4 separate regions of the Homo sapiens genome follow, and regions 2, 3 and 4 are each linked to region 1. Evidence: fine-mapped expression QTL. A gene starts in region 1. Each other region holds a variant in brackets. All regions are shown on one strand. Distances are between the middles of the regions.

Region 1 (8,105 bases):
AGTACCTAACACATTGTGAATGTGGAATCAATGTCTGCTCTATGCCTAAGTCAATAACAGCCCTTTATATTAAAAAAGTTCATTACGACATACAAGATATTTTCATTCATAATCTATAATCACATTTATCTTGATTCTCACAACTAGACTATCAGACAACCATTGCAGGTTTTATTATCCCAAGTTATCAATGACAAAATAATAGCTTCTGGTTTTCCAAAAGGGCAAAGCTAGAAATTAATGCAATGACCCCTAACTAAAGGTTTGACCTCTCTATTATTACCCTACTTAAATTATCAGGTACACAATGAAGACCACCATGTGCTAAAAGCAACACAGAAGAAGCGTAAGTCATGCACTTAGCTCCAAACATATTTAATCCAGTCAGAGGTACAAGATCCATCCATATGAGATAAAATTCTATAGGAAAGCATCCTACAGAGCTAAATGCTAAACCGTGTAGCACCCCCAGTAGGAGAGCGAAGTGCATTTAGTGGGCATTAGCCTAATCCTGAAAGACTTTCCAGAAACTGGGGCAGCATGCTCCTGCAGTCCCATTTATTTATTTATTTATTTAACTTTTATTTTATTTTTTTTGAGACGGAGTCTTGCTCTGTCACCCAGGTTGGAGTACAGTGGCCCAATCTCGGCTCACTGCAAGCTCCGCCTCCCGGGTTCACGCCATTCTCCTGGCTCAGCCTCCCGAGTAGCTGGGACTACGGGCGCCCGCCACCATGCCCGGCTAATTTTTTGTATTTTTAGTAGAGACGGGATTTCACCGTGTTACCCAGCATGGTCTCGATCTCCTGACCTCGTGATCCGCCTGCCTTGGCCTCCCAAAGTGCTGGGATTACAGGCGTGAGCCACCGCGCCCGGCCAGTGTCCTTTAGACTGTGGACGAGTAAAGGGCGGAGAGATAGACATTCCATTTGAGTGCAACAAATTGAATGTAGACCATGACAAGTTTGGAGAACAAAGAGGAAAACACCAAAAATAGAAATTGATTGTTTTCCACCTTTGACAGAACTCCCTAAGAGTTTCAGAAAGTATCAGATAGAGAAAAAAGTACCCTCACTCTGGTAAAGAAAACAAAAATCAACAAAAACCCTAAAACCAACAAAAACAAAAATGAAAACTTCCTTCAACTTACCACAGTAAGGCTAGAAGACAGAACTATTAATAACATGTTCATTTGCTACATTTTTTATCAACCTATTTGCATTAAATAATGTTAACCTCCCACTAAAGTTATTTCTACTTTGAATTCTGAGGTAGTCAAGAGATTTAAATAAGAAAAAGACTACATCTGTCTCTTCATTGTTACTTTGTTATTCCCGATCCATAATGCTTCAGTTTGCTACATTTAGTTAAACATCAGCAAAGTAAACAATAATGTAACTATTCTATCTAGTAATGAGCTTGGAGACTTAAAAAAATATATATAGAACTTTATTCCTTTTCATTTGACCACTAATAACATACTGAACATGCCCGTGAAAAGAAATAAAACACAATGGTAGAAAACTCCAAAAAGGTAGAGTGTCTTTACCATTCATCCCCCACCCCTATCTCATTAGCAACTTTCTGATCTCGGGTGTTTTCTCCAATAGTAAAGTGTATCCCTATATCCAAAACAATTTCTCTAAAGCCCTTCTCACTCATTCAACAAACATTTAACAGGTACATTGCACAAGGTGATAGAGGAAGAGAAACTGAATATTGTCCCTGCCTCGGACATTTCAGTGCCTTTACGCCTGACTTCCACTCCTAACCAGTCTTCTTTCACAGGTACCCTGTCCCCTAAAATCAAATGTTGCTTTTCACAGTTGCCTTTACTTGTCACCTAAAGTATTTCAATTCAAAATTTCCTCAAAGTCAACTTAACAGCTGCTGATAAAATAATCATTCTATATGATTACAAAGTGTTTCACCAATACATATCCCCATTTTTTCCAAACTTAAAACTTCTTCAGTCCTTATTACTTTAGCATAGAGACCTGCACTGTTGTTTCTTCTTTTTAAAAAAATACTAATGCTAATCCTTTACTGTTTGAGCAGACTTAATCCTACCTTTTCTTTTGTCAATAAATGCCAGGTGTTTTTTAAATCACTATCTTGTCACTTTTGATTATGATATACTGATCACTCTATTTGTATCTTGAATGAAAAGACCGCTTTGTGATTTTGCTAATGATATGTAAACTAGAACTTGAGAACCACTGGATACAGGAGTACTGCTGATCTTTATACTTTCTGTCTAAAAATGAAGCCCCTGTCTCTAAATTTCAGGAACAGGGAGTTAAGGTTCCATGAAGTGTTTACTTTCCACCCTTAATTTATTACCTTAATACTTCAGCTTAAGAATTATGTGTTCTGTATATATCACGCTGCTTGTCAATATCCACACATAAACCTTCTTGTTTTGACAATTAATCTGAAAAAGTCCCCATATAGTCTGAGAGGGGGAAAACCTAATTTGGAAGAATATAATAAATGTCAGTTTCCATCACAGAATATATGCTTCTCAAGTTCAATTAACCTCTCAATGATTCCCTAAGAGGAAAGTAATTCTCCTTAGTGTCCTTGTCATCCATGGAGTGGAAATCTTTCTACTGGCAAGATTAGTAATCACTTCCATGACCCCCAAAACGGCTCTTCCTTCCATTTCCCTCAAGTACTGTCTGGAGCAGCGGTTGGAATTAATAGAGGGGCCATAATCTCCAGACCTGAATACCAAATCAATCCTGCAGCCCCCCACACCCTTAATGCCCCTGCACTTTCTTGCTTATCCTTTTTCTCTCGTCTCCATTTTTCTTTCCTCCTTCTGGTGTTCCGGAACCTATGATACTCTCCTGGTTGTTTGAATTTTTACAACCTACCAGATAATAATCTCTTGTGATCCTCAAAGCTTCCTTAAAGCAAACCCTGAATCACTGTGTTTTAAAACCAGTATGAAAGACTATTGTGTGGGATAATGTTACATTGTTTCACAGCCCTACAAAGTTTGGCCACAAAACGTGTGGGCAGATTCCGTAACTCAACCGGAAACGCGAAGGACTGAAACAAATCAACACACAAAAAACGAAGCCAGCGAGAAAGATCCAACCCGGGCCCCCTGCCTGAAATGGGACACGGGGATGACGGGGCAAAGCCGGGCAAAACCGTGCTCCTGGCTCTCGCGATTCAGGAGACGCGCCAGGCTCACTGGGGACGACAGCGACGACGGCGGCGGCTCGCATTGCTCCACGCTTCCCGTCAGGGGGGCTCGAGGGACCGCCCCAGGCCCGGCCCATGCCCGGGCTCGGAGGGAGCCCCTGGTGCGAGGGCTGCCCGCAGGGCTCCGTCCTCCCGCTGAGGCGCGGCTCCCGGAGCAGGAGGCGCGGAGGCCGCCCTCGGCGTTTCGGAGTCGGGGCGGGGAACGTCCACGGCCAACTGCGGGCAGGGGACCCCCAGGCGGCTACAACAGGTGCGCCGGGGCCGCCCACCCGGCTCGGGGCGCGCCCGCCCCTGCGCCGACCCCCGACCCCTTCCGCCGCCGGGGCCCCGCTGTTACCTGCAGCGGCGGCTCCCGATTCCCGGGAGGGCGGCCCAGGGCCGGCGCCTTACCCGCGGGCAGGCCCACTCGCCCGACGGACGCCGCGGGTCGGCGACAGCGGGGACCGCGGGTCGGCGACGTCGGGGCACAGGTCCTGCGGGGCCGCGGGGGCCGCCAGGGAGGGCGCGACCGCCTGACCGGGCTTCAGGAGCAGTGTCCTCAGCCGGTGACCTGGCCGCTACCCTCGCTCAGTGTCCCCGGCGACGCGCGGGTCCTCACGCGCTCCCTCACTTCCTGCGGCTTTTGGTCCCTCCCGCTCGCCGTCCCTTTAGTTCTGCCCACTTCGCCTCCGGGTTGTCAGGGCAACCGTAGCGACGCCGGCCCTGGCTGAGAGGCGTTAGGAGTCCGGGGGTTCGCCCGCGGAGGCCGGGGAGCAGCCGACCATGGAGCCCCAGAGTAAGGGAGGCCCGGGCTGGAGCTGGGACCGGGGCGGGCGACCGGGCTGGGGCTCCCCGGGAACGAGTGTGGGCGCCCCGCGCGCGACTCCGCAGGTTTCAACGCTCGGACACGGAAATACGGTTTGCGTCTCCTCGCGCTTTTCTCTCCTGGAGAGGGGAGAAGGGGGCTACATCCTGCCAAGTCTGTATGGTTGGGCCGCCGGCGCCCTAGAGTCCGCGCTGGGGGCTGGGAGCGACTGGAGAGCCCCGAGGTATGGGTGGGGAAGGGCGCAGCGACCCCAGCGTGCGTCTTCCTGAAACTTCGCCCGGACGGTTCCATTTACTCCTCCTCCTACTCATGATTTTAGTTTGGTAGTTTGGTTCATTAATTGTAAGTAGCCCATTTTTCTTCTAAAATGTCAGCAATTAAACACGTCCGAGGCTGGGTCTTGTATTTATTAGAGACCCCGTCTTACTCCCCGCCCCCCGCCCCACACCCCTAGTCTGCGACTTGAAGGAGAGAGAGAGAAAAGAAGAGCTTTGTCCAAGTGTATTTGATTCATTCTTAGGGGTTCTACAAGTTAGGACACTCAAAAAATGTTTGTAATCTCTTTTTCTGTTTTCCCATGTTGCTTTCGATGTATGGCAAAAGTTGTGCAGTTTTGAGTTATCAGATCTAAACACGAGCTCTAACTTACTATTTTTGTTGTTGTTTTTACCTTTCCAGGGACTTTGTTTCAAGGCCTTTCTTTCTCTGCCCCGCCTAAGCTGTCTTATTGTTCCTTTTGTTCTCAAAATAAGGGGAGTGTTTTGTATGGAGACTTAAAATTTATCTAAAACCTTTATAGAAGGATGCAGTTTGACTCTCAAACCAAGTCGTCTTATCTTGTACAATTTCAGAAATGAAGAACTCAGACCAAATCTATTCTCTGGGGAAAATGTTGGCATTTTTAAAGGTCATTCGTTTTCCACCAAGAAAGTTTCAAATACTTTTCCTTTTAACTCATTTGCTGAGGAGAAAGCTTGCAAGTTGTGACTTATAGTTGCTTGATAGATTTTGTACAGTATTTGTCATTTGCATTTACAGCTCTTTGGATTCTACATTTTTTTAACCTAGTAAAAGAAATTTAGCATACAAGAACGCTAAAATTTTTGTTTTATGTCAAACTGATGGCAGGCTGTGTATATTCCCGCCTTAGAGAAGTGAGTTGAAATATACCTTTTAAAAACAGCAACTTGGCCTGGCCCGGTGGCTCACGCCTGTAATCCCAGCACTTTGGGAGGCTGAGGCAGGCGGATCACGAGGTCAGGAGATTGAGACCATCTTGGCCAGCATAGTGAAACCCATCTCTACTAAAATACAAAAAAAAAAAAAAAAAAAAAAAAAAAAAAAAAAAAGCCAGGTGTGGTGGCGCGTGCCTGGAGTCCTAGCTATTTGGGACGCTGAGGCCGAGGCAGGGGAATCGCTTGAACCCGGGAGGCGGAGGTTGCAGTGAGGCCAGATTGCACCGCTGCACTCCAGCCTGGTGACAGAGCGAGACTCCATCTCGAAAAAACAAAAAAAAGAACTTTATTTCTTCAGATTTATGTTACTGTTTTCATGTGTAAACTATAATTTCAAGTTCTTCAGTGCTGTCTTTATCCATTCATTCATTTATAGTGCCTGTTATGTTGCAGCTCTGTTCTAGGGATTGAGGATTGAACAACGGATCGGACAGTGTTAGTTTTGGTCATCCCAGGAAAACTAAGCAGAGGCTTGCTCAAGAACTCCTGAGGTCTTGGTGGGGTTCGGAGATTGGGGGAAGAGGAGATGGACAAAGGCTCCCAAGAGGAAGTAGTACTGGGTCTGCAGAATGACCCAGCAAAGAATGAGGGCAAGGGATTCCAGGCAGTGGGAATTACTTGTACATAGGCCCTGAGACCTGAGAGCAGCGTGGGTTTGAGGCTCACGGTAGGAAGATTAGTAAAGCTGTAGCTAAGGAGAGGAGGAGGAAAAAACAGGGTTGGAAGGAGGGAGGAGAAATGAGATAAGGCTGGAAAATTCAACCGGAGCCTGATCAGAAAGGTTCTGTAACCATGTGAGAAATGTATTACTTATGTGAACTATACATTTATATCTCATGTCATTGGATTTTGAGGTGGAAAATATTTAATTTATACCTGAGGAATGACTGTAAATTTCTTTCTTTCCACATATTCTTAAATTATTTCATCAATTTAATTTTAAATAATTCAATCACCATTTAGCTCAAGTTTTGTTGTTTTTTTTTTTTTTTGAGACAGGGTCTTGCTCTGTCACCCAGGCTGGAGTATAGTGGTGCGATCATAGCTCAGTACACCCTCGAACTCTTGGACTCAAGCAATCCTCTCACCTGAGCCTCCTGGCTAGATGTGACTACAGGTGTGTGCCACCATACCCCGCTAATTTATTTATTTATTTAGAGACAGAGTTTCGCTGTTGTTGCCCAAGCTGGAGTGCAATGATGTGATCTTGGCTTACTGCAACCTCCGCCTCCCGGGTTCAAGTAATTCTCCTGCCTCAGCCTCCCAAGTAGCTGGGATTACAGGCATGCGCCACCATGCCTGGCTAATTTTGTATTTTTAGTAGAGATGGGGTTTCTCCATGTTGGTCCGGCTGGTCTTGAACTCCTAACTTCAGGTGATCCTCCCGCCCTGGCCTCCCAAAGTGCTGGGATTACAGGCGTGAGCCACCGTGCCCGGCCCCTAATTTTCTTTTTAATTTTATTTACTTTGAATAGAGCTAAAGTCTGATTTTGTTGCCCAATTTGTTCTCGAACGCCTGGCCTCAAGTGATCCTCCTGCCTCGTCCTCCCAAAGTGCTAAGATTACAGGCGTGAGCCAGCACACCCAGCCTGGAAATTCTTTTACAGTCTAAGAAACATAATTTGGATAAATATTTACTACCATTCACAGTTACTAAATATTTAAAAGGACAAGATTAAATGATCTTTGAGGTTTCTTTTAACTTGGAGATTTGTATCCAACCAGATTTCACCTGAGACGGAAGTTATTTCCTACTGTCAGCCATAATGGAAGCACTACAGACGTGGCATCAAGTATTACAGTGAATTACAGTTATACTGTCAGCAATATTATGTTAACAGTACATTGTTTATGCCGATATTATCTAACATATTTTAAACCCTGTTCCTTTTGTTACTGAGAGGTCTAAAATAACATTTTACAAGTGTAGTTGAATATAGCATCAGTAAATTGGTTATGAGGAAGACTCCTTCATAATTGCTTTTAAGGATTAAACATGTATCTAAGGACAACACCAAGGAACTACTAGAAATAACCCTCGAGTCAGTCTTTTCCGTTCTGTTTCCACACCCTTAGTTTTCTATTACTTTTAGGAATGACCTTTGTTAACTAAGTCATTAAAATCCAATAAACATAAACTCTTCAGACCCCACAGCTGGATCATACTCTTGGCAGCAAGCAGAGGAAGGCAGGGGCTACCACTGTTTTACAGAATAATAGTAAGTCAATGATCCAAGAAATGACTTCCCAGGGAAAGGGCAAATTAAATACGTTCACAACCTTGGGCTGTTGAGAGTGGTTTTGGCTCTTGGCTTGCACATTGACGTCTTTAATTATTTTCTTGCTAAACCAACTTCAGTGTTGGAAAGATAGCTCATGTATAAAATAACATGGAAAACGTACATCACTTCCCATTTGTTTTGGGTTTTTGTCCTTTTTTTTTTTTCTTTTTTTGGAAAATAGTTCAATAGTACTATCTCTTCCTTAATTTCTTAATGAGTTTTAATACCAAGGGGTGGCTTTGGGGATCTTTAGCCCAAATCTAAGCAAACATATAATCTGAGTAAAAACTGTATATTTATCAAATGCAGCATCAAGAGAAGCCCCCCGGCTCCCACTTGGTGCTACCTGTTCTGTAAGCTCTTGCTATATATATGTATTTTAAAAATCCAGCAGGCAGCAGTTTTCTGCTACACGTTTCTTTCTGTTTTTTTTTGTTTGTTTGTTTGTTGTTTGTTTTTTGTTTTTTGAGACGGAGTCTCACTCTGTTACCCAGGCTGCAGTGTGGTGGCACTAGCTTGGCTCACTGCAACCTCCGCCTCCCAGGTTCCAGCGATTCTCCTGTCTCA
Region 2 (8,105 bases), 70 kb after region 1:
ATATTACAATGCTCATGTTTTTATCTTCTCGAAGACAGTGTACTGACAGGATAATGTATTTGTTTACTAATTGTGTCATAGATGTCATTTCTGGGTTTATTTCTCTTGATTTTTTTCTTTCTGTTACTGTTATTTCGTTTCCTTGCATATTGGTGATTTTTGAAAAATTTATTTTTATAAAAATTTTAGATTTATAAAGTACAAATATATTTCTCAGAATTCTCACATAATTTGCACCCATTTTCCCCTATTATTAACATTTTACATGAATATGGTGCATTTGTTGCAAATAATGAACCAATGTTGATACATTATTATTATTACTGTGGTTTTTTTTTTTTTTTCAGATGGAGTCTCGCTCTGTCGCCCAGGCTGGAGTGCAGTGGTGTGTGAGCTCTGCTCACTGCAACCTCTGTCTCCTGGGTTCAAGCGATTCTGCCTCAGCCTCCTGAGTAGCTGGGATTACAGGTGCCCACCACCATGCCCGGCTAATTTTTGTATTTTTAGTAGAGATGAGGTTTCACCATGTTGGCCAGGCTGGTCTCAAACTCCTGACCTCAGGTGATCCACCTGCCTCGGTCTCCCGAAGTGTTGGGATTACAGGTGTGGAGAAATATGAACACTTTTACACAGTTGCTGGGACTGTAAACTAGTTCAACCATTGTGGGAGACAGTGTGGTGATTCCTCAAGGATGTAGAACTAGAAATACCATTTGACCCAGCCATCCCATTACTGGGTATCTACCCAAAGGATTATAAATCATGCTGCTATACAGACACATGCACAGGTACGTTTATTGCGGCACTATTCACAATAGCAAAGACTTGGAACCAACCTAAATGTCCAACCATAGACTGGATTAAGAAAATGTGGCACATATACACCATGGAATACTATGCAGCCATAAGAAAGGATGAGTTCATGTCCTTTGTAGGGACATGGATGAAGCTGGAAACCATCATTCTCAGCAAACTATCGCAAGGACAAAAAACCAAACACCACATGTTCTCACTCATAGGTGGGAATTGAACAGTGAGAACACTTGAACACAGGAAGGGGAACATCACACCCTGGGGCCTGTCATGGGGTGTGGGTAGGGGGGAGGGATAGCATTAGGAGAAATACCTAATGTAAATGACGAGATAATGGGTGCAGCACACCAACATGGCACATGTATATATATGTAACAAACCTGCACGTTGTACACATGTACCCTAGAACTTAAAGTATAATAATAAAAAAAAACATTTTAAGATAATTTTGCAGTGCAGCTTACCTGGATACCTATTTAGTTGGGAGAAGGGTAAGACAAAAAAAAGGAGAGAAATATATCCATGTATGCAGTACTTTGTTCTTTTATTAAATAGTTCAGACATAAAATATGTAAAATACTCACATGCCACCACTTAGCTTAAGAAACAAATCATTGCTGACAAAATTATTTTTCTTTCATCCTATTTTTCCTCTTCCTCTGTCTGTGATATAGTTTTAATCAAATATTATGTAGATTATATCATTCTCTCTCTCTTTTTTTTTTTTTTTTTTTTTTTTGAGATGGAGTCATGCTCCGTCACCCGGGCTGGAGTTCAGTGGCTCAATCTCTGCTCGCTGCAACCTCCACCTCCTGGACTCAAGTGATTCTCCTGCCTCAGCCTCCTGAGTAGCTCAGACCACAGGTGTGCGCCACCGTGCCCAGCTAATTTTTGTATTTTTAGTGCAGATGGGGTTTCACTATGTTGGCCAGGCTGGTCTTGAACTCCTGACCTCAAGTGATCCACCCGTCTAGGCCTCCGAAAGTGCTGGAATCACAGGTGTGAACCACTGCACCTGACCTATATTGTATCATTCTCTACATAACGTTTTACAACTTTCTTTTGTGATTCGACCTTACCCTCGATTTATTCACATGGATATATTTAGCCCCAATTAATTTTAACTTTAGTCTTAACTGCTATATGGTATGCTAATGTTTGATTATTCATAATTTGTCCAGTCTTCTCATGCTGGCCATTTCAGTAGTTTTCCATTTCTGTTAAATGTAAAGCTGCCATGAACATTCTTACACATGTAAGGGACCATACCTAGGAGTGGAATTGCAGGATGATAGAGAATGCACAACCTCAACTTAGCCTTGCCAACTTGTTTTCCAAAGAGATTTCCCAATTTATACTCTACTGGCAGTTTGAGAGTGTTCCACTCTTCCTCTTCACTGCTATTGGCAGATTTTAGATTTAATGAACTTGATGACCAGCACTTTTGGAGGCCAAGGCTGGCGGAGCACCTGAGGTTGGGAGTTCGAGACCAGCCTGACTAACATGCAGAAACCCTGTCTCTACTAAAAATACAGAATTAGCCATGTGTGGTGGTGCATGCCTATAATCCCAGCTACTTGGGAGGCTGAGGCAGGAGAATCATTTGAACCCGGGAGGCAGAGGTTGTGGCGAGCAGAGCCAAGATTGCACTCCAGCCTGGGCAACAAAGAGCAAAACTCCGTCTCTAAATAAATAAATAAACAAATAAACAAACTTGATGAATGCAAAATGTCATCATTGTAATTGCATCATTTTGATTTTCAGTGAGGTTGAGTAGGTTTCACTGGCAATCCTCCTGAATTGCTTGGTCATATTCTTCAGTAGCACATTTTTCTTAAGAGTGAATATAAGCTGATCCATTTGAACACTTTGCTATTGTGAAAGTATCCTACCATTTCTTACTGTGAATATATTTTAGACTTGTGACATACTGTGTCTAAAGAATATATATATAACAATTTGGCTTTTCTTATCTGATTGTGAAAGACTTTGTCATTTTACACACTCAGTGTGCATTTCCATAGAAGATCTCAGGAGCTCCATACCAGGCACAGCCTGTGGGGGAAAGAGCACAGATTTTGGAGTTAGAGATCTGGATTGAAATCCTTGCTCTCCACTTATCAGTTCTGTAGCTTTGAACAGGCTGCTGTACTTCTTTGAGCCTTGGTCTCCTCCTCTCTGTCCTCATCTATAAATTGAGAACACCCCATCATCGTGAGGTTGAATCCGTTGTTGACCAAGTGTCCTGTATGATTTTTTGCTTAGAGCAAGCCTGCAGTAAATTGAAGTTGTTGTAATTAAGTAAAGGAAATATCTTGGGAAGTACATTTCCTTCTTTGCCTACTACCTGTTACCCATATAGAACTCCAAGCAGGGTTTCCTTGTAGTTAAAAGTGTGAAATAGGTGAGCATTGTGACTTTCAAAGGCATTATCACTACCTTATGTTCGTGAAGTCCTTTATACATTTCAAATCACTTCAGTATTTTGTCACATTATTTTTTTGTTTGCAGTAAATCTGAGAGGGAGGCAGGACAGGTATCCTTACTTATCCCCCACTTTTCCTGATGAGGAATATCCATGGTAGAGACACAAAAGGAAGCAATGTTTCCCCATTACTACTCTAGGGAGTTTTGTCTTTTATTGTTTTTGCTATTTGGTTTTTGATGTTTGAACTGATTTTTGCCCTTGAAGAACTTACTAGCAAAGTAGAGGAAAGCAACTTTTGGGCAGTTTGCACTTACGTTACTTACTTTTAAAGGATAAGGAATGTTTTGGGATAAAAAATATAAGAAAATTTAAGTATATTGAAATGTTTTCATTAGATGATGTATTCTTTGCCTGCAGGCTCTGCCAGACTTGCCTCTTTATCCCGAGACCTCACTTAAGGCACCTCATTCCCAGATTAGAATATATGTAAACTATATGCATTTTGAACACGTCTTCCTGTAGGCTCCCTCTGCACCTGCCTCCCCCATGCACCTGGTTTGTATTTGTTTGGTGTCCAATGTTCCCTGCTCCTCTCTTTGCCCTTCCCTCTTGGTCATCTTGGTTACACCTGTGCCCTCAGGACACAGGAGAGGTATCCCACAAGTGTGCTGAATGAATGGGTGTAAGTAAACTTTTTCCTTGGAAATAAATGTCAAGCAGGATATCTGCTTGACACCAAAATGGTCAATAAATTGAGCCAGAGTGTAATTGAAGTGTCTCATGCTTTGAAGCATCCACATTGACTTATTCTTGGTTTATTTTTATCAGACTTGTTGCTATCATATATGTATAAGCTCAGCAAGGAAGAGTCTAGGCTAGTAGTTTGTCTTAGCTGAATCTTTTTTCCATAAGAATAAGTAAAAGTGCTCAGTTACATTTTGTTTTTTCCCCCTTTATTCAGTACTATACCAGCTTAAAATAATACCAAAAAATCAGCCATAATGCTACTATTTTGTCTTTTGTTTTTCTAAATTCTTTCAGTTCTTCTGTCTGCGTGCATCTGTACATTTTATGCCATTATAATCATAGCATCT[T/G]TGTAAGTTCGTACCCTTTCCTTAGTATATCATCTTCCACACTTTTAATGACTAAATATTCTTGTATATAAATAATGTACCAAAGTGTATCTAACAAATTCCATGTTCTTGGACATTTAGATTAGTTTTCATTGCTGTCAGTGGTATTAAAGTGTTCCTCTCTGGTTTTTATTTTTTGTTGTGATTTATGCATGTGTGTATGTAGTTAAACATAGGGCAGTAGTAGATAGCACATGGAAAGTTAAGGGCACGCCGCTGGAGTTGGGCTCCCTGGGTTTGAATCCTGGCTCTGCTGCTTGTTGCATGGACTCCCCGGCAAATTATGGGACCTCTGTGTGCCTCCAGTCTTACAGGTAAAAGGTAGGAGGAAAGTTATAGCAGTTTATAAGGTTGTTGTGAAGATTAAATAGTATATGTAAAGAGTTTAGAACACTCATACAAAGTCTTGTGAAAACTTAGCTATTAAATAACCCAGGTTTGGGCAGGGATGTTGGATGGACTCCTAGGTAAAATAGAGTTGGCCCTAATTGTGCTGATAATTGAAGCTGGGTAACAGATACAAGAGGATTTGCTATACTATTCGTTCTACTTTTTATGTTGAAATTTTTATTCATTTATTTATTTTTTTGAGACAGGGTCTCATTCTGTAGCCCAGGCTGGGATGCAGTGGTACAATCATAGCTCACTGCAGCCTCAACCTCCTGGGCTCAACTGATCCTCCCACTTCAGCTTCCCAAGTAGCTGGGACTACAGGCATGTGCCAGCATGCCCAGACAGAAACTTTTTTCATAATAAAAATAAAAGCACATACAATGCAAAAACATTTTAGCTTTTATATTTATTTTTTGATTTCTGAATTTATTTCTTGAATGTGTTTCTAGAAGTGAGACCACAAAGTAGGAGATCTTACAACCATTTTTGAATACAGCCAAATTGTTTTTTTAAAGAATTGTGTAATATACAGTGTAATGCTCAATCTAAAACGGTTTTATCACAGTCTTAAACAACACTGAATATTATTACCATTACATGTTTTTCATATAATTTTATAGGTAAAATGGTACCTTACAGTTATTTTAATTTCTTCTTTTTTTTTTTTCTTTCTGAGACAGGGTCTTGCTCTTTCGCTCAGGCTGGAGTGCAGTGGCATGATGATAGGGTCTCTCTAGGTTGCCTAGGCTGGTCTCTTCCTGGCCTCATGTGATCCTCTCACCTTGGCCTCCAAAAGTGTTGGGATTACAGATGTTGGTTGGCCACTGCACCTGACCTAGAACGTATTTTTGATTAATGGTTGCTGTAAATATCTGATCAAGCCATGATAAACTGCTTTGAGGTGACAGCCACCACTGTTCTCATATAGCATCCCCCTCAGTGTGCAGTCATCTTCACTGTGGACCATATGCCACCGGAGGCTAGACTGCAGATGCCCCTTGCCAGTGAAATTTGACTTCGGTAAATTTTCAGATGAGTTTTGGAAGAGCAGGGAAACTACAATTCTGCTTTAAGGTGTTCTGTTTTTATATAGTGAATATATTTATATTTGTTTTTTTTCTTTATCATTTCCCACTTTTCATGATACAAATCACAATTGCAAATTCCAATACAGTGTATGATCACCACTTCTCTCTGTAGCTTTTGAGATATGGTCAACTATTTATCATAAAGATGCTGAATAATCTGATTTTTTTTGTTTTACTAATTTGTTTTTTGAGTCTCCTCTTGGTGCATTTCTTTTACAATCCTTTTAAAAAATGTAGGATGCTAAGCCTAATATTGTGTAGTGGTTTACATAAATTTTATAGTTTTCTACGTTCAAACCTATAATTTGTGAGTGATACCTTTTTACTATGGTTTCTGATGTACTTGAGCCATGTTTTATGCCATCTTCTGAGTAACCATAGGGACTGAGTGGCGACAGTGTATGAAGCCCTTTATTATTCTATATTCCCATTTATTACTTGACAAGTGGCACCAGAGGCATAAAATTGTTTTATTTGTCAGATTTGCATAAGAACTTTCTTACAAAAAGCTTTTATGGTACGTAACACATCCATAAATTCTCATAATCGTCCTTTTGAGGTACTTCTTGTAGTTTTACTGTTGTTCTTCCTTTTTCATTATTTGAGAAACTTTTAAAATAAGAAATATTTGTCATGATGAAAAGATCCTACCAATTATTTGAAAGAACCATTGAAAATTGAACATAAGGTCTCCTTTTTCTTTTTGCTTTTTTTAGAAAACAAACTCTTTAGAAAATTTTTTAGAAAACAAAATCTTTAGAAAAGTTAAAATAAAATTAAAGCCTGACTTTGTGATGAAATTAGTTGGTTAAATTTGGATGCTGGTTATCAGACTTAAAAAAAAAAAAAAGTACCTTTTGAAAGATCTGAGACTTACTTATGACCAAGAAAAAATAGTTCTAAAACTTTTGTATAAAAAGTAGCATGTAAGTTGTGTCTATGAATGTGTATCTGTGGGTGTGTTGTATCTGTTTTATAAAACTTGAATAGAGCATCTATAAAAACAGTTCTCAAGAGTGTTTGTACTGATAACAGATAAATACAGATAGGGATATAAACATCATGGTTAAATAAATAGCAAAAAAGATCAGCTTTTGAATTTTTCTTTTTTTTTAAATTTTTTTTAGTATTTATTGATCATTCTTGGGTGTTTCTCGGAGAGGGGGATTTGGCAGGGTCATAGGACAATAGTGGAGAGAAGGTCAGCAGATAAACATGTGAACAAAGGTCTCTGGTTTTCCTAGGCAGAGGACCCTGTGGCCTTCCCCAGTGTTTGTGTCCCTGGGTACTTGAGATTAGGTATTGGTGATGACTCTTAACGAGCATGCTGCCTTCAAGCATCTGTTTAACAAAGCACATCTTGCACTGCCCTTAATCCATTTAACCCTGAGTTGACACAGCACATGTTTCAGAGAGCATGGGGTTGGGGGTAAGGTTATATATTAACAGCATCCCAAGGCAGAAGAATTTTTCTTAGTACAGAACGAAATGGAGTCTCCTATGTTTACTTCTTTCTACACAGACACAGTAACAATCTGATCTCTCTTTCTTTTCCCCACATTTCCCCCTTTTCTATTCGACAAAACCGCCATCGTCATCATGGCCCGTTCTCAATGAGCTGTTGGGTACACCTCCCAGACGGGGTGGCGGCCGGGCAGAGGGGCTTCTCACTTCCCAGACGTGGTGGCTGGGCAGAGGGGCCCCCCACCCCCCAGAGGGGGCGGCCAGGCAGAGGCGCCCCTGCCTTCCAGATGGGGCGGCTGCTGGGCGGGGGCGCCCCCTGCCTCCCAGACGGGGCGGCGGCCGGGCGGAGGCGCTCCTCACCTCCCAGATGGGGCGGCCGGGCAGAGGCGCTCCCCACATCCCAGACGATGGGCGGCCAGGCAGAGACGCTCCTCACTTCCTAGACGGGGTGGTGGCCGGGCAGAGGCTGCAATCTCCGCACTTTGGGAGGCCAAGGCAGGCAGCTGGGAGGTGGAGGTTCACACCACTGTACTCCAGCCTGGGCAGCATTGAGCACTGAGTGAGCGAGACTCCGTCTGCAATCCCGGCGCCTCGGGAGGCCGAGGTGGGCAGATCACTCGAGGTCAGGAGCTGGAGACCAGCCGGGCCAACACGGCGAAACCCCTTCTCCACCAAAAAATACAAAAACCAGTCAGGCGTGACAGCGCGCGCCTGCAATCCCAGGCACTCGGCAGGCTGAGGCAGGAGAATCAGGCAGGGAGGTTGCAGTGAGCCGAGATCGCGGCA
Region 3 (8,105 bases), 64 kb before region 1:
TGGGCACAACTCATCTGTGCTCCTGCTCCATCATGTTAGCTGGGGTGGCTTGACTAGGGGCTGGAGGATTCCCTTTCAAGATGGCTCACTCACATGACTGGCAAGTTAGCCCTAGCTGTCTGTCGGGAGCTTAGCTGGGACTCTGGACCAGGGGCCTTAGTTCTTCTCCATGTGGGCCTCGTCACACATTGGTTTGCTTCCAAGAGCAAGCTGCCCAAAAGAAGCAGGCAGAAGTGATATAGTGCCATTTCCACCATTTGCTTAGTCTTTACAGATAGAAATTTCTATCTAGGGGGAGGGCACATTGATCCCACCACTCCATGAGAAAAGTACCTAGGTCACTTTGTCAGAAGAGCATGTCCAAGGAGAGATCCATTGGGGCCATCTGTGAAAGATACAGTCTGCCACAGTACCTTAATCTGTTTCCATTTCTGTCTCTGAAAATGAGGATGGTACTAGCACCGATCTTGTAGAGTGCATGGGTAAACAAAATGAATTGCTGACTGCTTAAAACAGTGTCTGGCAGCTGACATGTGCTACATATGTGTAGCTGTCACTGTTGATGTCTTTTTCCTGTTCCTAGCACCTGTTCCCTAGCCTGTTGTGAAAAACACAACAAACAAAAGCTCCATTCAGTCTAATGTTCCACTCTTAAGTACATCACCTTCAGAGCCAAAATTCTTGAAAAGTAATCTTAAGTCATGGTTTCTACTTCCTGTCCTCCTATTCATTCTTCAGACACTCTTATCTGACTTTTACACCACTAAAATTCGGACACTGAGTGATAGGGTCACCAACATACTTGTTACTAAATACAGTGTACACTTTTCAAGGCTTCTGACAATATTAGTAACTTTATGGCACTCAATGTAAAGAAAATGAGAAATTAAACCTATGGGGCATTCCTTTTATTAGGGCAATGGGAAAAAGCAGACCACCTGCCCTTTCATCAAATAAATGTGATCTCTAGCTGATTCGTGTCTTAGAAGACCTAATGGATATGGAGGAGAAGCAGTTATTTTTATCCTTGAAAGAGGTTATTATCTAATGGCAGGATTCACTCTTTAAATGGATAATCACATCAATAGCTCTGCAGTTGTAACTGTGGCTTCTTGGGATTCTCCAGAGACACTTGAGGTGTCCTGAGGATAGAGACTTCTTGTTCTTAGTAAAGGGACTACCCATAGTGTTCGGTGGAGCCAGTCCCTAGGATCATAGAACAAAGGGCAGGGGGTTCTCTTTTTTCCCCTTCTCTCTTGCTAATGTGATAGGTGTAAGTGGCCCTCAAGCATTGCCTAGCTTCACTAATGGTCAAGACTGACAAGTGTTCTGGAAACTCATGAGTTTTAGATGAAACAATGCTGTGGGCCAGCAGAGAAGCAAGGCTTGGCTCCAGCCTAATTGTGTAGAAAACAAATGAAAATGCTTTATTTCATGAGGTTTATCTCTTCTGGATTTGTATTATATTGAGAATCTGATAAAAGAAAATGACTTAATCTGGTACAAAGAAATTTCAATCTGTTCAGAATCTGAAAAGAGGAACAGAGTCGAGGTAAAGCGAAATGAACAAGGTCACACAGTATTTAAGATACAATGCTTTCCAAGATGATGGTGGTAAAACTGTGACAGTATTTAAAATACAATGCTTTCTAAGATGGCGGTGGTAAAACAAAGTTTTGCTTTTGAAAAGTGAAAAGATAAATGAGGCCTACATCCCAAGACTTGGTTTTATACTCTTGGTATTATACTAAATATAACATTTAAATATTTTTTCTTTTAAAATAGCAAACGGATGTTTCAGAAGACAGCAATGATGATATGGATGAAGATGAGGTTTTTGGTTTCATAAGCCTTTTAAATTTAACTGAAAGAAAGGTTGGTTTCACTGGATGGCATCTGAATGGTTATTTCTTAGGCCAAAACCACTTTTATTTAATGCATGGTGAAAATGTCTTTTATGTTAAACAGTGATATTAACTATAGGGATAAGTGCTCTTGTGAAATCTTATTGTAATCCTTTTTCAATATGAAGGTGGTGGTGTTGGGTCTGTACCCAGTTAAAGTTGTTTACTCCCTGTGGTTTAGGGAATCATCTGGCTTTGCAGTCCTGATGTTGGTACTGATGCAGGAGCTGTTTGTGCTGTCTCTCTGCAGCTGTTATCTTTGCTACTTGTGTAGTGGGGATATTCTCAGGCTTTGCTGCCTCAATGTTGAGGGCATTTACTGACATTTTATTTTGTTTCGATTCATCTCTTTTTATTGATTCTCTGATGAGTTGTAATAAAAAGTAAACCAGCTGCTTACCCACCTCAGAATAAGATGCAGGCTACACTTAGTCTTTAATTTTGAAATAAACTGTCCAGTTACTTCCATCTATCTTTATGAGATGGACTAGAGTTGCCATTCCAGTGTGTCTGAATGTTAATTATGACTCTCTTACCACTCATCATGGGATGGTAAATAACCAGTGTATTTACTTTTGAGAAATGCTTAAGCAGTCAACACTGAAGACATACAAGACGTTAAGGCTATGGCAGGAAACTGCCCTTAGCTGTAAGATGAAAAGTGATAGCTTTTACTCTCAGGTTTTGTCCTCTATGTGATGGCTTGTAATAGGAAACAAGCTTTCTCTTTGCTTTCTAGGGTACCCAGTGTGTTGAACAAATTCAAGAGTTGGTTCTACGCTTCTGTGAGAAGAACTGTGAAAAGAGCATGGTTGAACAGCTGGACAAGTTTTTAAATGACACCACCAAGCCTGTGGGCCTTCTCCTAAGTGAAAGATTCATTAATGTCCCTCCACAGATCGCTCTGCCCATGTACCAGCAGCTTCAGTAAGAGATTCTGGGAAAATATCTTTGAACAGTAATTTTTTTTTCAAATAGATTCCTAAATGTCATTTAAGTAGAATATGTAGATATAGAAAGAGTTCTGTCCTTGGTTTAAGTGGGTTTAGTGTGAGGGGAGTGGAAGAAACATCCTGTGAAGTACATACATTATTAACAACTGGCTTTTTGAAGAGTTTGTGACAATAATCATGAAATTTTAACTTAAGATTTAAGTGATATATAAGTAGATAATTTCATATAGACTTTGCATCCCCATTTGATTGAAGTTTTTCACCTTCACAGATAGCTTTCTGCAACATGAATAAAATAATGAACAATTACAACAATAACAAAACTGGTAAAGTTCCCAAATTCTATTGGTATGTTTCATAACAAATGAAACCATAGTCCTGATACTGTGGCTAGCTTTTCAGGGTTTTTGTTATTCTATTTTTTAATCCAGAAGTTTTAAGTTTACAAAAATATTTCAAATGTAGCTGTGAAATCTAGCAAACTGAGTGTACTAAGAATTGTATTGTCTGTGCTTTGCAA[C/T]AGAGGACAAAATATAGGCAGATTCTCTTATTTATTTCTATCTAATTTAAATTTTTTTTTTTTTTTGGTAGAGACAGGGTCTTGCTACATTGCCCAGGCTGGTCTTGAACTCCTAGGCTAAAGTGATCTTCCTGCCTCGGCCTCCCAGTGTTGGGATTACAGGTGTCAGTCACAGCACTTGACCTAGACAGGTTCTTTATAGAATATTCTTTCTCAGAGGTCATAGCCCTTGCGTTGTGGTTTTCCTTTAAATAGCTGTAGGAATGCAACTCTACTCTGGAAACCTTTACGTTTGCTGTTTTTTCCTAGGGATTCGATGCTTCTTATCTCCTGCTCCCTGCTCTCTCAGCTGTAGCTCAGATTGTGCTTCTGGTGCCTTAAGTGGTTTTTGTTTTTTTTTGGTTTTCTTTTTTTCTGATCAGCTGGAGCTCACATTTATTTGGTTTTATAGGAGGGTGATTTGCTTTCTCCTAGTCCTGTTAAAGCTGAAGTGAGCCAAGCGCAGTGGTGCACGCCTGTAGTCGCAGCTACTCAGGAGGCTGAGGCAGGGGGAATGCTTGAGGCCAGGAGTTCCAGGCTGCAATATACTATGATTGTGCCTGTGAATAGCCACTGCACGCCAGCCTGGGCAAAATTACAAGACCCTATCTTTTTTTTTTTCTTTTTTTTTTTTTGAAAAGGCCAGGTGTGGTGGCTGACACTTGTAATTCCAACACTTTGGGAGGCCGAAGCTGGCAGATCACTTGAGGCTAGGAGTTTGAGACCAGCCTGGCCAACATGGCGAAACCCCAATTCTACTAAAAATACACCCACAAAAAATTAGCCGGGTATGGTGGTGCAGACCTGTAATCCCAGCTACTCAGGAGGCTTAGGCACGAAAATCGTGTGAACCTGGCAGGCAGAGGTTGCAGTGAGCCGAGATTGTGCCATTGTACTCTACAGCCTGGGCAACAGAGTGAGATTTTGTCTCCAAACGAAAAAAAGAAAAAAAAAAAAAAGGAAAGCTGAAGAGGACGGTTGTTCTGAGTTTCTTCTTTTGTTCAAGGGCATCCAGATGCACAAGGCTATGTTTAATTTTCAGAAAGAAGAAACATTAAGGCTTTGTTGCGATTCCATTGCTAGAATTTAGGTTGTGTGTTTATGCAGTTTCTGCAGTATGTCAGAAATTAGTTCCAGACTCTAGCAATTAGAGACTGTGGTAGTAGTCACAGGCTGTAGTGACATTGGTTGTGGCTGTATACCTTTGTGTGTTTCAGTTAAATGTTCATTGCTTTAAAAAATTCAAAAATTCAGATTCGTATATATTTTTAACTTATGCACAGGCAGAGCAGTGATACATTGAGTGAATTTGAGACTCATCTGATCTGTTAGTTGCTATATATCCACAAATCAGCATAATCTGAGAGATATATCATAGTATTATAAAAAGTAATACATAATCTAAAATGCAACTGATTATGTAAATAAAAATCATTCCTGTAGACTAAGTGTTCAGATTGAATGCCTGCGTCACAGCAGAACCCACTGAAGATGCCTCACCGGGTTTTCTGTGCTCTGGTTTGTTGATGGATTTCACTTGACCCAGCAGGTAAACAAATGTTGTGTGTGTGCCTTGCAGGAAAGAACTGGCGGGGGCACACAGAACCAATAAGCCATGTGGGAAGTGCTACTTTTACCTTCTGATTAGTAAGACATTTGTGGAAGCAGGAAAAAACAATTCCAAAAAGAAACCTAGCAACAAAAAGAAAGCTGCGTTAATGTTTGCAAATGCAGAGGAAGAATTTTTCTATGAGGTAAGACTATCCTGCTTATTTGTTTAGATGTAAATAAGGATTTTCTTGAAAATGATTTATCAAGATTTATTGTTCTCCCACTTTAGGTCCAAGTCTTTCAAGTGTGGCTACTCTGTTTTTCTGTTTCCCCACAGGACCTAGCAGCTAACATAGTGCCAGGTGCATAGTAGGTACTCAGGAGGCTAGGCACCAGCCTCCTTGCCTGCACTGTGGTTATGAGCATGAGGAGGAGGAGGAGAAAAGTGATTAACCTGTTAAGAATGATTAGGCATTTATAATATGCTTCCTGTGAAATCTTTCATTCTAAAACCATGCGGAGAGGTAGACATTAGCCTGGGGTTTACAGATGTGGACTTTAAGGCATAGGGAAATGAGGGAAATTACCTGCGATCACACAGCTGGTCAGTGTGGAAGCTGGGGCACCCCTGCTGCTCTGTGTCCTTAGTCGTGGATGTCATCCTGCTGGTGGGATATCTCCAGCATTTTTTTCCTATAAAGGTAGCTTGTACTGTGATGGACAGCCATATACCAGAGAATATTCTTACCCTCTCTTCCTCTGAAAAATCTTGAAGTGGGCCAGGTGCGGTGGTGCACACCTGTAATCCCAGCACCTTGGGAAGCTGAGGCGGGCAGATCACCTGAGGCCAGAAATTCAAGACCAGCCTGGCCAACAGGGAGAAACCCCATCTCTACTAAAAATACAAAAAAAAAAAAATTAGCCGGGCATGGTGGCAGATGCCTGTAATCCCAGCTACTCGGAAGGCTAAGGCAGGAAAATTGCTTGAACCTGGGAGGCAGAGGCTGCAGTGAGCCGAGATCGCGCCACTGCACTCCAGCCTGAGCAACAAGGAAGAAACTCCGTCTCAAAAACAAACAAACAAACAAAAAACACAAAAACATCTTGAGCCAGGCACGGTGGCTCACGCCTGTAATCCCAGCACTTTGGGAGGTCAAGGCGGGTGGATCACGAGGTCAGGAGATCGAGACCATCCTGGCTAACATGGTGAAACCCCGTCTCTACTAAAAAATACAAAAAATTAGCCGGGCGTGGTGGCACGTGCCTGTAGTCCCAGCTACTCGGGAGGCTGAGGCAGGAGAATGGCATAAACCCGGGAGGCGGAGCTTGCAGTGAGCCGAGATTGCGCCACTGCACTCCAGCCTGGGCGACAGAGCGAGACTCTGTCTCAGAAAAAAAAAAATCTTGAAGTGTATCTCTGAGGGGAACATATTTTCCTGAATTGGATGATATCACATCACTTTGAAGACTTCTGCAGAAGACTAAAGCGCTACAAATTTAGCTGTGCCCTTCTTTTCCAGGAAGTAAATAGTAAACATAATTTTTAAAAAACATAGGCCGGGTGCGGTGGCTCATGCCTGTAATCCCAGCACTTTGGGAGGCCAAGGCGGGCGGATCACGAGGTCAGGAGATCAGACCATCCTGGCTAACACGATGAAACGCTGTCTTTACTAAAAATACAAAAAATTAGCCAGGCACAATGGTGGGCACCGGTAGTCCCAGCTACTTGGGAGGCTGAGGCAGGAGAATGGTGTGAACCCGGGAGGCAGAGCTTGCGGTGAGCCGAGATCACGCCACTGCACTCCAGCCTGGGTGACAGAGTGAGACTCTGTCTCAAAAAAAAAAAACAAACAAACAAAAAAAACAAAACCATATGCTTCAACACCTCAGGTTGACCATTTGGGGGGAGTGTGTATGGGTGTTTTAAGATGGCGGGGTATGCAGATTTACTCTGTCTTCACACAAAAGCCTGATGCTAAGGAAGCAGCTGAGAAAGTGAGAAAAGAGTGTTTGAAGACAAGTTCTTGTTAAATATCAAATTTTACAAGTCTTAATTTCATTATGTTTCACAAGATTATTTTGACAATTAAATGAAAATACCACTTAGCTGCTTGTTCACCTCTTAGAAATTGCACACCTCTATCCCTGTTCCTCATGTGGGTTTAAAATCTACTTGGTTTGTGTTTTATAACTTCTGCCTGAATGTCCCATTTGAACTTTTTCAATTCTGAGTTTTGCTTTTTTTTAGCTCTCATTCTTATTTAAGCATATGCCAAACGTAATATTCTTTGCCGTAGATCAAATGGGTTTTGTCTTTGGGTTGTCCCGATTTTTAATTCATGGTTACTTATTTGGTTTAGAAGGCAATTCTCAAGTTCAACTACTCAGTGCAGGAGGAGAGCGACACTTGTCTGGGAGGCAAATGGTCTTTTGATGACGTACCAATGACGCCCTTGCGAACTGTGATGTTAATTCCAGGCGACAAGATGAACGAAATCATGGATAAACTGAAAGAATATCTATCTGTCTAACCCATTTCCAATGGACAGTGATGGGCTTGTTTTTGTAAAATTACCAGAAAACTCAGTGGAGATTTACTGAAAAACTCAGACTTTATTCAGATTAAGTTCCTCTACAAAAAGTAGGGTTCTGTCCCATGTGTCTCTGACACATTTACAAAATACCAGTTTTTTAAAATTTTGGTCAAATTATGAGTGGTTGATTTAAAAACTTTTCCAAGAAGAAGAAAAGCATGGAGTAGTAATTTAAAGAACTCAATAAAAACTTCTATTTTTTATTTTAAAATAATATACACAGTGTTATTTTCTTCAAGACCGTCCTGTGGATGTGAAATCCGTCTTCGCGTCATGTATCTCCCATATCCAGCAGTTCAGCCATCCAGCTACCTTTGGGACCCTGCTGCACCTTGTGTTTGCTGGGGAGTCACTGGAGAGTGCATCTCTGTTCAGTTTCAGGGCACGTCTCACACATTTGCTGTTCCTTATTCATTGTTGACACAGGGGATAGGTGATCCACTACTTGCTGTAGAATGTCCTTACTTTCACTAGGAGGCAGATTACTGAAATAGTATTGTGGTACCAGCTGCATAAATCTGTTTATTTAAGACAAAAAGATGAG
Region 4 (8,105 bases), 84 kb after region 1:
TACTTGTGATTGCATTGTAAATTTTTTTTTTTTCCCTGAGACGGAATCTCGCTCTGTCACCCAGGCTGGAGTGCAGTGGAACAATCTCCGCTCACTGCAGTCTCTGCCTCCCAGGTTCAAGCGATTCTCCTACCTCAGCCTCCTGAGTAGCTGGGACTACAGGTGCCTGCCACTATGCCTGGCTAATTTTTGTATTTTTAGTAGAGACGGGGTTTCACCATGTTGGCCAGGCTGTCCTGAAATTCCTGACCTCAGGCAATCCATCTGCCTCAGCCTCCCAAAGTGCTGGGATTACTGGAGTGAGCTACTGTGCCCGGTCATAAAATTATCATATTGCATTATTTAGCTCTGTCAGACCCGTTAGGTTTTTTTTTATGCTGGCTATTCTATCCTTCAGCTTCTATATCATTTTACTGTGATTGTTCTTTTCCTTAGATTTGGTTTCAACATCCTCCTGAATCTCAGTGATCTTTGTTCCTATCCATATTCTGTATTCCAGCCAGTTCTGCCTGGTTACAAACTCTTATTGGAGAACTGGTGTGGCCATTTGGAGGGCGTATGACACTCTGGCCATCTGAGTGTTATCAGAGTTCTTGCTGGTTCTTTCTCATCTGAGTGTGGGTGTTCCTTTAATGTAGATTGAGTACGGTCAACAGACTTCTTTTCTGGATGTTTTCACTGGGCTGATGCTTTATGTAGGGTCTTTATTTGAAGCTTACTTGTTGTCTCTGGTTTCAGAGGGGGGTATGTTAATGAGGTGTTTTTGGTATTGAAGCTTTGGGGTGTGATCCAGTAGGTGGCGCTTAGGTGAATTGGTCAGTTGCTAGACTCTTGTTTGGTTGCGTGGCTCCCCTGTTTCCTCACAGTTTCCGTCATGCTCCCTTTCAGTGCTCTGAAACTGTGTGTTCCTCTCCCACTTGAGTGCTGGCTCTCCTTGGCACTCCTGGGATGCCCACTGCAGCTCTGGGGTGATCTCAGTGTTTATGTTCCTTTCTCAGCTTAGAGGCAGCAGAGGAAGAGATCTTAGCAGGGGTTGTGGCCGGGGGTTATTTGCTTGCTCCACCTCAGAGAGATGTGGGTCAGCAATCACTTGGTGCAGTCAGCCCAAGATGTAGGGTTTGTGCTGTGTGCCCAAGCCAGGGGTTCCCTGTCTGGTGATGAGCCATGCTGGGGAGAGTGGGTGTGGGACCTGTAGGAGACAGACTGGCTGCCTCTCCTTGGGTCGACTGTAGCTTATTGGAGGTGTAGATAAGGTACTCTTAGAGTCTTTGCTCCTTTGTTAGTTTGAAGGTGGCAAGGGCAGTTCCACTGCTGAGATAGTGGCAGAGAGGCTTTCAGTTGCCCCTGGAGGCTCTGTTCGGGGAGTTGCTGAGTTGGTACTGGCTCCACAGCTCTGGCGGGGGTGGCTGGAGGCCCAGGCCTGGAGGACCTGTCCAGTGAGGAGATATGGACAAGTCTGCCCACTTTTCCATAGGGCTGCTGTGGTATGCTTGGGGCCTGCTCCAGTCCCTAGTCACCTCAGATTTTCCAGAACCTGGAGGTGTCACCAGTGAAGGCTGAGAAACAGCAAATATGGCAGCCTGTCCCTCCCTCTGGGAGCTTCGTCCCAGGGAGGTATGGACCTGGTGTCGGCCCAAAGGCACCTGTAGGAAGTGACTGGAGACCCTGGTTGGGAGGTCCCGGCCAGTGAGGAGGAACGGGATTGGGACCCACTTAAAAAAGTGGCCACATTTTGGGAGAGCAGTTGTGCTGTGCTAGGGGTCCGCTTCAGCCCCTGATCGCCTCGGATACTATGAGGCTCAAAGGCTGGAACAGCTAAGGCACCTGAACAGTAAAGATGGTGGCCTACCTCTCCCTCTGGGAGTGCCATCCCAGGGGAAATTCAATGTCCATCTGTCAGATGGACAGCTCGGGCAGGGGTGGCTAGAGGCCCCAGTTGGAAGGTCCTGCCCAGTGAGGGAACGGGATAGGTACCTGCTTAAAGCAGCTGTCCGGCCACGTTTCGGTAGAGCAGCTATGCTGTACTGGGGGATCCCTTCTGCCCTGTGTTGGCTCGGACTCTCCAAAGCCTGAAAGCTAGAATGGCTAAGGTGCCCAAACAGCAAAGCTGGTGGCCTGCCCCTCCCCCTGGGAGCTCCTTCTTAGGGTGGTGCAATGCCGCTACTGGTAGCTGGCTGGAATTCCAAGCCAGTGGGTCTTATCTCGTGAGGTGCAGTGGAAGTGGGGGCTGTTGCTGCTTAGCTGCCTGGATTCATCCTCTTTCCTAAGTGTATGTACAGGAGTCTAACCTCTCACTTTGCCAGAGCTACGGCTACTTTTGCTGGAAAGCCTGAGTAGCTAAGGCTCCAGGGTCTCCACGCGTGCCTGAGCGGCTGCTCTGCCAAGACTCCACGCTGCTCTGTCAGAATGAAGACTGAAGGCACTGGTAGAGAGGGGTTTACGTGGAGAGCTCCTGACCTGAGGTTTGCAAAGATCTGTGGGAGAAGCATGGTTTCTGGGTCGCTCATTCGGTCATTGCTTCTCTGGGCAGGGGAGTATCCCCTGGCTCCGTGCTGACCCCCGGGGGGCCATTGTCCTGTCTTGCTTTTCTTTGTTCTCTGTGGGTCAGGTTGTTTCCTTGATTAGTCCCAGTGCGAGTATCTGGCTGTTTCAGTTGAAGGTGTTGTATTCACTCGCCCCTTCTGTTCCTCTCCGTGAGAGTCAGGTACACCAGCTGCTTCTAGTCAGCCATCTTGGCCACTCACTCTTGTGTGTATTTATGCTCTGATTTCTGCAGAAGTTTCCAGGGGTGGGATGGTGAGACAGGGATATGTGTATTTTTAATTTTAATAGATGCTTCCATATTGCCCTCTAAAAAGGCGATAATTCATATTTCACTACAACTGGCACATGAGAATATCCTCTCCCTATCTTGTGAACTCCAATAGTTATGAAATTTCTTTTTCAGTTTCTGACTGGATATAAAGTTATACCCCATTGTTACCAATTTCTGTGAGCACTAGGGGATGATATGAGCATCTTTCCAGATATTACCTTGGCAATTTGTTTTTGCTCTTTTGTGTGCTGCTCATCTTTTGCTAGGTTTGTTACTAACCTTGGGCCTTTATTCCTGGTTAGTTTCTGAGGGCTGTTTATACAGCATAGGTGTCAACCCTTTGTCATCTATGTTCCACATACTTGGATCAGATAGAGCATTTGTCTCTTGGCTTTGTTAGTCACTGAAGGATTACAGAAGCAAACTGAGTTCCAGCAGGTCAAATACAACCTTATTAGTTTGATATGTTAAGCAGCCCTTTGGAAGGGTCAGTGGGGGTGGTATGATATTGATGGGCATGGTACAATATATGCTTGTTGAAGACTGTGGTAGCTCACACATCAGCTGAATTTTGTATCTCTTTAGCTTTTCAGGGGTTCTTTAAGCAACAGGGAGGTATGCTCATATGTGTGCCTTATGCTCAGAAAAATAGCTCGATCACCAAGCAGCTGTAATCCACTCGACTGGTCTCTCTTCCTTATGGAAACTGGGTCCTGAAGTTCGGTGTCATTCTTTTTTTTAGAAATCATGCCACCCTCAAAGCCTCATCCACCTGTCGTGGGCAAAGTGACTCATCACAGCATTGAATTATACTGGGATCTGGAAAAGAAAGCCAAACGCCAAGGACCTCAAGAGCAGTGGTTCAGGTTCTCGAT[TGAA/T]GAAGAAGACCCCAAAATGCACACTTATGGTATCATTTATACGTAGGTGCAGTGTTGAATTGCTTGCCACTTTGCCTTACTTCCTGATTAGCTGGAATGATTTCTGTTGTCTCTAAAAAGCCACTGCTTGTTTCAAATTAAAGAATGAGTCAGCATCATTTGTATTCATGCTCTTTTATGAATTACAATTTTTGGAAAATAGGCATTAGCAGTAACTTTGAAATTAAACCTCTGTACCTTTGAGAGCTTCTTTGACTTCTGAAATATTTTAATGATATGTATTTAAAATCCAGAATGTAGAGACAGACTCAAACAATAGCTTGATGCAATTAGGTGAGCTTCCCATCAGGCTGTTGTGTTCACTGACGTGGAATGGCCCCGCATGGTCTACCCTGGCTAGCTTCTCTGATCTCATGTCATACCATTGTCCCCTTGTCAACTCTCTTATACCACGCTGGCTGCCTCTCAGCCTGGACAGGCCAAGCTGGTTCCCATCGCAGGATCTTGCTCGTTGCTGTGGTCTTGAATACATTTCCTTCTGTTTTTATACAGCTGGTTCCTTCACACCATGCCAATCTCAGATGAAACATCCCCCCGCCCCCAGAAGGCCATCTGAAGTAGCCATCCTTTCATGCAGGCCTCCTGTAGCTCAGAACCTTGTTTTGTATGCCACATAGCATTTAGCTCTGTTGGGCTTATTTTACTTGTTTACTTGTTTGCTTAGTTTGTTTACCTTGTTGTTTACTTGTTTACTTCTTGTTCCTTTCCTGCCTCCTCACCCAGTATTAAACTCAGTGAGAGACAAATAAGACTTCTGCCTGCTTAACGCTCTAGCCGGTTCCTTGACAGTGCTGGCTGTTATATAGCAGGCCTTCCAAATGCTTCTGGCATGAACCAATACCACCAGGAGTAATGAAGAAGTCACTTTTGGCCAGGCATGGTGGCTCATGCCTGTAATCTCAGCACTGTGGGAGGCTGAAGTGGGCAGATCCCTTGAACCTGGATGTTCAAGACCAGCCTAGGCAACATAGTGAAATCCCATCTCTACAAAAAATCCAAAAGTTAGCCAGGTGTGGTGGCTTATGCCTGTAGTCCCGGGCTGAGGTGGGAGGATCACTTGAGCCTGGGAGGTCGAGGCTGCAGTGAGCCATGATTGTGCCACTGCACTCCAGCCTGGGTGACAGAGTGAGACCCTGTCTCAAAAAAAAAAAAAAAAAAAGTTATGTTTTTCTTCTTAGTCTTCATATCATCTCTGACTTATTTCTTCCCCTTGATAGATTTACCACTTGAAAAATGCAAAATGACTATTTTGTGATTCAGGAATACCAAAAATGAGATACAAATATGGTTTTTAGTGAAACTTTTAATTTTGAAATAATTATAGATTCATATCCAGTTGTAAGAAAGAGTGATTGTACCTTTTCCCATTTCTCCCCTATGGTAACATCTTTGAAAATAATAGTGCAGTGTCACAGTCAGGATATTGGCATTGATGCAGTCAAGATGCAGAACAGGTTCATCACTTTCCTGGCCTTTTCTCAAGTTTGCATTGTGATAAAAGTGCTGACATGAGAAGATAGATATGTTTATGTGTATGTGTGTATAAATATCTATAAATATGTATATAATCTGTATATGAAAGCTCCAATTTCAACTGTTACTTGAGTGATAATATATCTGATATTTGAGAAATTTCTCTGTACCTTAAGAAAAATCTGAAATGTAGTTGCAATGTAAAAATAGTTCTTGTTCTGACTACTCAAATGTTATTTTAATCATGTCGTTTTACTTATTGAAGGTATGCTTTTTCTATCTAAAAGCATGAATTATGAGAAACATTTCTCTTGAGAAAGAAAAAGACATCTTTCTTTCCCCCATCACCTTAGCACCACAAGCTGTGTTGGGCAGGTGAATGGGGCCATCCTGCATCGTTCTTTCTTCCTTGGCTGTGCCTTTGCTGGGTGGCCAGGTAGGCAGCCTCAGCTAGAGAAACCATAGCTGCGTGTGCTGGCTTCCAGCCTGAGGTGTGTGTCTGTGTTGTCTGCATTCTCCCCAGAGACCTGGTTGCTGTCAGGCTGGAGAACGCACTCTCACTCTGACGACAGCCTGGCATTGTGGGGCTGGCAGTGACATCTGTGGTCCCTGCTCTAAGGACAGTGGGGAAATGCCTGCGTTTCTCACAGAATTACAAGTACAAATCTTGACGCTAGGTGGCAGAATTAGGCTGCATTAATCTTGACCTCTTTTGCTTCCTTATTTCTTTCTCTACATAGCATTAAAACTAGCAAATGCTTTTCTTGTAAAAAGTGGTTATCTAGAATACCTGATGTTTGGATTGTGGATTTAAGAACTTCTTCCTGATTTGTCAGTTTCTGTTCCCATCAGTCATCAGTCTATCTGGAAACAATGATATTGTCTTTGACTTGGGCTTTCCTCCATGGCTTCTCATAGCCAGTCAGTTACTGAGTTCTCCATTTGTAGAATTGCTTCTGTGCTTTCCCTCTTTAGCTGCGTTTTCCCCTGCAGGATGTAGGCTTTATTTCTGTCTAGCTCATTTGTGGATCCCCAGCTCCTACACCTGCCCAGTGTATTTTCTGATGGAAGGAGTTGACTTTATTCCTTTTTTTTTTTTCTCATCATTCTATCTTGCTGGGCTAATTTCCATTTTAATCTTTCTTTTGTCACATTGTCTTTGGTGGGTCCTCCATTGCTTAAAGGATAAAGGCCAAATTCCTTAGACTAACATTTAATGTCTTTCACAGTTTCCCTACACCTGCCTTTCTTGTTGCCTCTTATTTCTCAGCACAAACCCTCCAGTCAGATTTCTTACTGTCCTTTGAATATGCCTTGACGTTTTCTGCATGTGTGTTCAGTTGTTTTCCCTGTTTGGACAGATTTTCCCCTCTCACCCTATTCTTTCTTCTGCCCTGGTCAGATTTTACCTCCACTGAGAAGCTCTCCTTACTACCCTATTGTCTGTGCCCTAAATTCCTGTGATCGTTGCTGCCCATGCCACGCATTCCATTTATTCCATCAGCGTGTATTATTGAGTGTCTGCCGTGTGTCAGACACTGCTCCGGATGCTGGGGATACGGCACTGGGAAAAAATTCCTCCCTCATGATGATGAAGGCAAACAATAAATAAGATACATAAGTAAAAATAGGTAGTCAGCAGGCAATACATACTGAGGGGCAGCAGCATAGGAAAAATTGAGGGCCTGGGGTAGAGGTGGGGAAGTCTTCACCAAGAAGGTAGCTTCTGAGTAGATCTGAAGCAAGGATACCTGGAGCCTTGCAACTATCTGGGGGAAGAACCTTCCAGACATAGCAAAGGGCAGGTGAGAAAGCCTGGCAGTACAAATGTACCTGGCTGGTCCCAGGAGCATTGAGGAACAGAGGGAACAAGGAGGAAAATAATGGGGGCGAGGGCAGCTGGGTCATGAGAGGTCACTGCCTGGGCCTTGAGGGTTATTGGGAGAACTCTGGCTTACTCTGAGAGAGGCGGGGAAAGCCACTGGAGATTGTGAAGCTGAGAAGAGGTGTGATCCGGCTTATGTTTTACGAGGATCCCTCTGGCTGCTGAGTTGGGAACAGGCTGTAGGGAGGCCAGGCAGCAAGCAGCAGGGAGGACTGATGAAGAAGCTTTTGAAACAGTTTAGGTGGGAGACAACACAACAGTGTGGAAAGTGGGAGGATGCAGGATATGCTTTAAAGATGGATTTAAGAACTTGGTGGTGGACCGAATATGGGATGTGAGATACGGGATGTGAGAGAGAGGATGGTCAAGGGATATGTGGTAGCCAGCACAGGCCCAGTGATGCTGCTGGAAGCATCAGCGTCACAGTCTCAGTGGCTTATGGCAGCAGTGATTCCCTCCTACACACCATGCCCACCGTGGGTCGGCCAGGGCTCCATCCTGCATTGTCCTCCTGCCACAGCCCAGGCCATGCGGCAGCCTCTGCGTGAACATTGTCAGTCACTGTAGCAGGGGAGAGAGCATGGCATGCTGTTTCTTGAAGCTTCTGCCCAGAATGACATACTTCACTTCTGTGTATACTTCATTGCTCAAAGCAAGACATGCAGCCATGTCCGAGTTCAACAGGGCGGGGAGGTAGATAGAATCCTTGTGGGAGGGCACCTTGTGTCTCTGAACAACAATCCAGTCTTCCACAGGAGGCACCCAGGGTCTGGCCTGAGCAACTGTAATAACAGAGATGGGGAAGACTGTGGGTGGAGTAGATGCTCAGTTTGAAACTGTCTGACGTCCAAGCCGAGATGTCAGGGAGGGTGTTGGGGATGTCAAGGGCCAGGGAAAGGGTCTGGGTTGGAGAGACAGACTCCAGAGTCATCAGCATGAGGCTGGATTGGAATTCTGGGGGAGGGAGTTTAGAGAAGAAAGGGAAGTCTGGTAA

Direction of the effects. Alleles are on the strand shown, and positions count from the first base shown. SD is a standard deviation of normalised expression in the study named. Not every link is listed here.
In carriers of allele G in region 2, the expression in skin of the gene that starts at base 3,900 in region 1 tends to be lower than with T alone (moderate effect, 0.64 SD a copy in TwinsUK).
With allele C in place of T in region 3, the expression in unexposed skin of the gene that starts at base 3,900 in region 1 is higher (large effect, 0.84 SD a copy in GTEx).

What was found.
Region 2: its variant is fine-mapped to the expression of FANK1 in skin (TwinsUK, PIP 0.95).
Region 3: its variant is fine-mapped to the expression of FANK1 in unexposed skin (GTEx, PIP above 0.99). The same link has a PIP of 0.9 or more in sun-exposed skin.
Region 4: its variant is fine-mapped to the expression of FANK1 in testis (GTEx, PIP above 0.99).

The regions. Positions count from the first base shown.
Region 1 is chr10:125,892,665-125,900,769 of GRCh38, forward strand. It overlaps FANK1 (fibronectin type III and ankyrin repeat domains 1), which reads left to right and starts at 3,900. Exons shown (of 11, transcript NM_145235.5): 1 at 3,900-3,991. The coding sequence starts at 3,979. It also overlaps a transcript of DHX32 not described here. RefSeq lists silencers at 3,405-3,484, 3,705-3,784, 3,945-4,084, 4,176-4,470.
Region 2 is chr10:125,962,659-125,970,763 of GRCh38, forward strand. All of the region lies in intron 1 of FANK1 (fibronectin type III and ankyrin repeat domains 1), which reads left to right. Among named protein-coding and RNA genes, the nearest start is that of FANK1-AS1, 6.6 kb to the right of the region's middle. The variant T/G (reference allele first, on the strand shown) is at 4,336.
Region 3 is chr10:125,828,777-125,836,881 of GRCh38, forward strand. It overlaps BCCIP (BRCA2 and CDKN1A interacting protein), which reads left to right. Exons shown (of 7, transcript NM_078468.3): 4 at 1,786-1,875; 5 at 2,644-2,831; 6 at 4,996-5,170; 7 at 7,328-7,775. The coding sequence ends at 7,498. It overlaps DHX32 (DEAH-box helicase 32 (putative)), which reads right to left. Exons shown (of 11, transcript NM_018180.3): 11 at 7,561-8,079. The coding sequence ends at 7,911. Among named protein-coding and RNA genes, the nearest start is that of BCCIP, 9.3 kb to the left of the region's middle. The variant C/T (reference allele first, on the strand shown) is at 3,378.
Region 4 is chr10:125,976,604-125,984,708 of GRCh38, forward strand. It overlaps FANK1 (fibronectin type III and ankyrin repeat domains 1), which reads left to right. Exons shown (of 11, transcript NM_145235.5): 2 at 3,558-3,735. Among named protein-coding and RNA genes, the nearest start is that of FANK1-AS1, 7.4 kb to the left of the region's middle. RefSeq lists a silencer at 5,808-5,857. The variant TGAA/T (reference allele first, on the strand shown) is at 3,691.